Linked DNA regions of Homo sapiens: region 1 is linked to region 2. Evidence: fine-mapped expression QTL. A gene starts in region 2. The other region holds a variant in brackets. All regions are shown on one strand. Distances are from middle to middle.

Region 1 (2,898 bases), 35 kb before region 2:
GTCAGGGCTCACCTCCTCGTGTGCCGAACACCCCATTGTCTGGGTGACCACATGTTGCCCCCCTACTCCTCCACCAATGGGCTTCGTGTTGTCGCCACCTCTTGGCTGCTGTGAACCCGTTTGACTTTTTGAACTAACTTTCAGATTCACTCTTGTAGTTTCAAGGTCGAACCTACAGAAGGCGAAAGAAACCCGCCGGCTCAGGAATTGTGCAACCAGTGGCCTGGCGGCTGCAGGTCCCCCGTGCTGGGGGTCTTGACTTTGATGCTTTCCCAGGTGCCCACTTGTTTCAGGAGCCTCCAACCTGTGAACCTCGCACACACAGCTTGGTGCATGTCAGGTAGAGCCTAGTAGAGCTGTTCTTTTTTGGGGGGGTGGGGGATGGAGTTTCACTCTTGCTGCCCAGGCTGGAGTGCAATGGCGTGATCTCGGCTCACTGCAACCTCCGTCTCCCAGGTTTAAGCAATTAATGGTGAGGGCAGCCACATCATGGAAGTGGTGGGCCCAGCCTGGATAGGAGGGAAGCAGCGAGAGTGTCCGCTGTCTGCGAGGGCCACCCTGGCCCCGGACTCACTCCTGGGTAGGGCCTGTGGGGTCAGACCCCCTCCCTCAGCGAGCCCCAAGGAAGCGTGGGGTCCGACCGCCGCCATCCTGGGACTGAGTTTGGAGGCCTCAGTGCTTGGCTGGCAAGAGCAGCCACCTGGGGACACGGTGATTAATTCAGCATCAGAATGCAAGCGTGGGAGTTTCCAGGAACACTGAGGTTCAGGTCTGGGGGCGGAAGAGAAAAGCAGCTCATTCTCAGAAAGCACTGAGAGGCCGGGCCCTGTGGCTCATGCCTGTAATCCCAGTGCTTTGGGAGGCTGAGGCAGGATTGCTTGAGGCCAGAAGTTCAAGACCAGCCTGGGCAACACAGCAAGACCCCGTCTCTAGAGAACATTTAAAAACTAGCTGTGCGCAGTGGTGCATACCTGCAGTCCCAGCTACCCTGGAGGCTGAGGCGGGAGGATGCTTGAGCCCAGGAGTTGTGGGCTACAATGAGCCGTGATGGCTGCACTGCACTCCAGCCTGGGTGACAGAACGAGACCTCGTCTCTAAAGTAAATACATAAAACCTAAAAACAACGGCCGGTTGTGGTGGCTCACACCTATAATTCTAGCACTTTGGGAGGCTGAGGTGGGCAGATCACAAGATGAGGAGTTCGAGACCAGCCTGGCCAACATGGTGAAACCCCGTCTTACTAGAAATAAAAAAATTAGCTGCGTGTGGTGCTGGGCGCCTGTAGTCCCAGCTCCTCAGGAGGCTGAGGCAGGAGAATGGCATGAACCCAGGAGGCGGAGGTTGCAATGAGCCGAGATCTTGCCACTGCACTCCAGCCCGGGCGACAGAGACTCCGCCTCAAAGAAAAAAAACAAGGAGAGCCCTGCAGGCCCCTCCTTAGGCTGGCCTCAGAGGTCTTCAGTGGCCAGAGGGTGTGAGGATCTGCGGGACGTGCCGACTGGGGCAGCCCCCACCACACCCTGGGATGCACCCTGGCTGGGACCAGTCTCCAAATTCCCCTGCATCCGTCTCAGGCTGGAAAACTCTCCAACAAAGTTGCCTCCAGTCACTGGATGGGAAGCGGCCTCTCAGCTGAGC[C/T]GGACCCTCTCTCCTTCAGCTGGTGCTGCAGTGACTCCAAGTGACCAGTGACACCAGGTGTGGCAGCTGCGCACAGCCTTTATCGTGCCGCACTCAAGGGCCCCGGGAAGGGAACCCAGGCAGGGCCCAGTGCCATGGTGGTCTCCACTTCGCCGTGGAGAGAACGGCCAGGTGACCCAACCACAGCGAGGCCTTCAGTGTGTTCCTCACTTCCACCTGTGGCGGTCGCTTCTGGCTGTCACCCTGAGCACATCCATGTGGCCTCTTGGAGTGGCCTCTCCACGTGGCCTAGGCTTCCTGGCAACGCAGCCGCCTCAGGGCAGTGTGACTTCCTGATGGTGGTGACTCAGGACAACAAAAGCGAGAGGCCCTGAGAGTCAGGCGGGCACCACAGGGCCTTGCTGAGGCAGCCGGGGACTCCCGCTCCCTCTGCTGACACCATTGGTGGCCAGTGAGTCAGAGGCAGAGGTGCCAGAGACCCCGCCCGAAGGGAGGAGATCTGAGAGCCTGCAGCCACAGGCTCCTCCAGGACTCGAGCACCGGGGCCGCACAGAGAGCCCTTTCTCTCCTGGGCAGGCCAGGCGGGGATCCCCCAGCGCCCTAACCTGCTCTGTGACCACGGCAATGTGGCCTTGGGGATGTGCCCTGCCTCTCTGGGTTCCAGTGCAGGACTCAGGGCTGGCCACCTGAGAAGCATCTCTAGGACATTCCAAAGCCTGGAACAGGGACAGCATTGTGGCCCTGCTCTGGAAGGCTGCGTGGAAGCCAAGAAGTTGTCCTGGCCTGTCCTGGAGGTGCCTTTGCCCTTGCTTCCTGTCCTTGTCCCCAGGGGCTGCACCCATCCTACTGACTCTGCCAGCAGTGCCAGCCTGGTCCCAGGCACCCTGGAGCTGCTCCATCCCCATTGGGGGCCAAGAGCTGCCGGCCCACACCAGAGGCCCCGGCCACACAGGAGCCACGGGACAGCCGGAAGGGAAGCCAGGAGGCCTTGCTTGGGGAGCTGGGCACACGCCTGGCCTCCCCGTGATGCTCCCCTGGACGACACACGCACGCACACATGCACGCCTGTGCATGCACACAGAGCACACATGCACACACACGCACACCTGTGCATGCAGAGCACACGCACACACACACAAACCTGTGCATGCACACAGCATACACGCATGCACGCCTATGCATGCAGAGCACACATGCACACACATGCACGCCTGTGCATGCACACAGCACACATGCACACACCTGTGCATGCACACACAC
Region 2 (2,898 bases):
CCTCCCAGTTATTCACAGCCAGTGCGTTCCAGAAGGGGGCTTGCCAAGCTTGCCTCTGACAGTTCCAGAACTCCACAGAACCATGCTCACAAAAGCAACTCGAAAGTACTGTATGCGAGCAGCTACTATGGTAAGAACTGAAGTTTATCCTTAGAGACCACACTCAGCTCAAGTGTAACGCACTCAACCTGTCAACACAGATACGTCGTAACTTATCACATGGAGTCGCCACTAGAAAATTGCAGCCTCCTTCAACCTAAATTCTGCCAAGCCCTCAGATCATGTCAGGTATAGACAGGAGGTCAGTCTGACACACAGACAGGCTTCTTAGCTGACCTTACTGAGTCCTTTAGAGACTCGAGAACTAGTTCCAAAAATCAGCAACCTAAGGAACTAAATACACAGGAGTATTTCAGGTGAATAAACTTTAAAAAGTGTCTCCGCGAGGAGACCCTACTCCTGGGACTTCTCTCTTGACCAATTTTACCTCTGCAGAAAAGCAGGGGCGCAGGGCCTTGTCCCGCAGCGGCACTATTTCAGGGACTCCAGCTAAAAGGCACAGTGGCCTGGGGCCAGCCAGGAAAAGAGCTCCAAGCAGCCGGCTCTGCGGGAAAGGGGAAGAGGAAGGAGAAGGGGCCTCTTCATGAAGGAGCCTACGTTAATTCTCAGCTCTCAAAGATGCTGCTGAAAAAAAACCTCACCCCAACAGCAAAAAGGTACAACTGCCGGAAAGTCCCGAGGCCCTGCTCCGTCGGCGACTTCACTCTCCAGGCCTCAGTTTCCCGATCTGCCCCTACCTCCCTGCGTGGCTGCAGAGTTAACTGAGAGGCTGGCGTGTACAGGGCTCGGCCGGGCGGCTGGCACGGGGCGAGCGCTTAGTGACCGGAGTCCGCCGGCCGAAAGGCCAGGCCCGGGACGAGCGTCCAGAGGTGTGGGATCCGAAAGGGGGAGAGTCGGGCAAACGGGCAGGAGGCGCTGCCTCCACCCCCGGAGGAGAGGGCCTGGGAGCTGCGGACTGGGCGGCGGACCCCAGGTCGGGGCGGTTCGGGGACTGAGGCGGGGTCCGCAGTCGGAGGGGTCCGGAGCGGGTGTTGGGGGCAGGGGAGGGGGCCCGGCCTTACGTGCTTGAGGCAGCGCTCCTTGAGCTTCTCCACCGAGGTGTCCTCGGTGGCCTCCTCCAGCCACTCGGCGCCGTCGGACGCGCAGATGTGCAGCCGCAGCACCTTGCCCGCGAAGATCTTCTCCTCCTGCACGAACATCCCGCCGCCGCCGCAGGGGCCTGCGCCCGCCACCCGGGCCCCTGAAGGTCACCGGGAAGGCGGGCGGGGAGGGGGCGGGGCCAGACCGCCCGCGCGCTCCTTCGCTGGGCCGCCGCCCCGCCCCGGCTCCCGTCGGCCGGGCCGCCGTCACTCTCCGCGGCCTCAGCGGTCGCCTCGCTCCCGCCGCCGCAGCAGCCGCCGGGGGCGCGCCGTCGCGGCCGCACCGGAAGTGCGTCACGGGCGCGTCTGGCGCATGCCGGGAGATGTGGTTCTCGGACAGGCGCCTCGCTCCCGCCGCCGGGGGCGCGCTGTGGCCACCGCAAAGGAAGTGCGTCACGGGGCGCGCCCGGAGCATGCCGGGAGCTGTAGTTCTCTGGTAGCTTCGTTCCTCCCCGAGCTGCAGGCGGTTCCCACCCGGGGCACTCACCACGTGGGACCTCATGGGTTCTAAAGGTAAAATACACGCTGGATCCCAAAGAAGTAACGGGAAAAAGGAATGTAAGGCATCTCGATAATGTTTTCATATTGATTACATGTTGAAATAATATTTTGTATCTATTGAGTTAAGAAAAATATGTCATTAAAATTAATTTCACCTGTTTCTTTTAACCTTTTTAAGATAGAATTTTAAATTGCCTACATGGCTGCTGTGATATTTCTTTTGCACTGCACTGCTGTAGAACGGAGGCTCTCCAAAGAACTTGGCTTTAACAAGCCTAGGTCTTTCTAATTCACACGCAGATCAGAGAGTCACTGTTCCTGCGAAGCCTAGGTTTGCGGGGCACCCAGAGGGGAGGGAAGCCGCCCTTGGTGCAGGTGATGCCAGGCAGACTCATTTTCTGTGGGGTGTGACAAAGAGTCTTTGCTTGGCCAAACTTAAGCAGGCTCCTGAACCTTCTACATCATCTGTACACTTCCTTGTAAAATCCAGTTTTAGCGAAGAGCCTTGATAAGTGAGTTTAGCAAGAACTCCCAGCCTCAATATCAGATCACCCTGGACGTCTGGTCAGGTTCCTCGTCCCCCAGGTGCTGTCTGATATCTCCAGCCTCTCTTCAGCAAGAACCCTGTCAGGTCGGTTTAGCCAGAACCGCCCACATCCCTGATGTTTTCTCCTATTAATTTTCCATTCACTGACCCCACCCACTTGCCCTTGCTGTATTGGGAGTTGAGCCTGACCTCTCTCCCCACTGCAAGCCCCCTTGGCAGTGGTCTCTGTACCTAGCTCAACAGTCCTGGATAACGTCTTACTTACCATGCTCCTAAATATGAATTTTGTAGTTCAGGTTAGACCTGACACATTGACTGATCTGTACTCATTCATCCCATTCATTTAAAAAAACTTTACTGCGCAGAGATGAATAAGGCACAGTTCCCGTTCTCAGAGGTTAGCAATCTAACCGGGGAGGCTGTCTCTGCCTCCTGCCTGCAGGCTTTTATTCTGTCCACACCATTTTGCACACACATCCTCATTTTTCTCCTGTGATAATTCCAACCTCGTCCAGATTCCATGTGTCCAGTTCAGCACTTACTAATTGCCTCTCACAGGTGGGAGCCTCTGCTACTCAATGAAAATATGGTAGTGATTAAGACCAGACACCAGGATACAGTCCTGGAATGGGGCATTTTTAACGCAGGAAG

The links.
Region 1: its variant is fine-mapped to the expression of UBAC1 in whole blood (INTERVAL, PIP above 0.99).

The regions. Positions count from the first base shown.
Region 1 is chr9:135,925,016-135,927,913 of GRCh38, forward strand. No RefSeq gene overlaps it. Among named protein-coding and RNA genes, the nearest start is that of CAMSAP1-DT, 19 kb to the left of the region's middle. RefSeq lists enhancers at 780-859, 1,896-1,945. The variant C/T (reference allele first, on the strand shown) is at 1,639.
Region 2 is chr9:135,959,904-135,962,801 of GRCh38, forward strand. UBAC1 (UBA domain containing 1) reads right to left here and starts at 1,470. Exons shown (of 10, transcript NM_016172.3): 1 at 1,122-1,470. The coding sequence starts at 1,259. RefSeq lists silencers at 1,080-1,199, 1,210-1,619 and an enhancer at 1,090-1,590.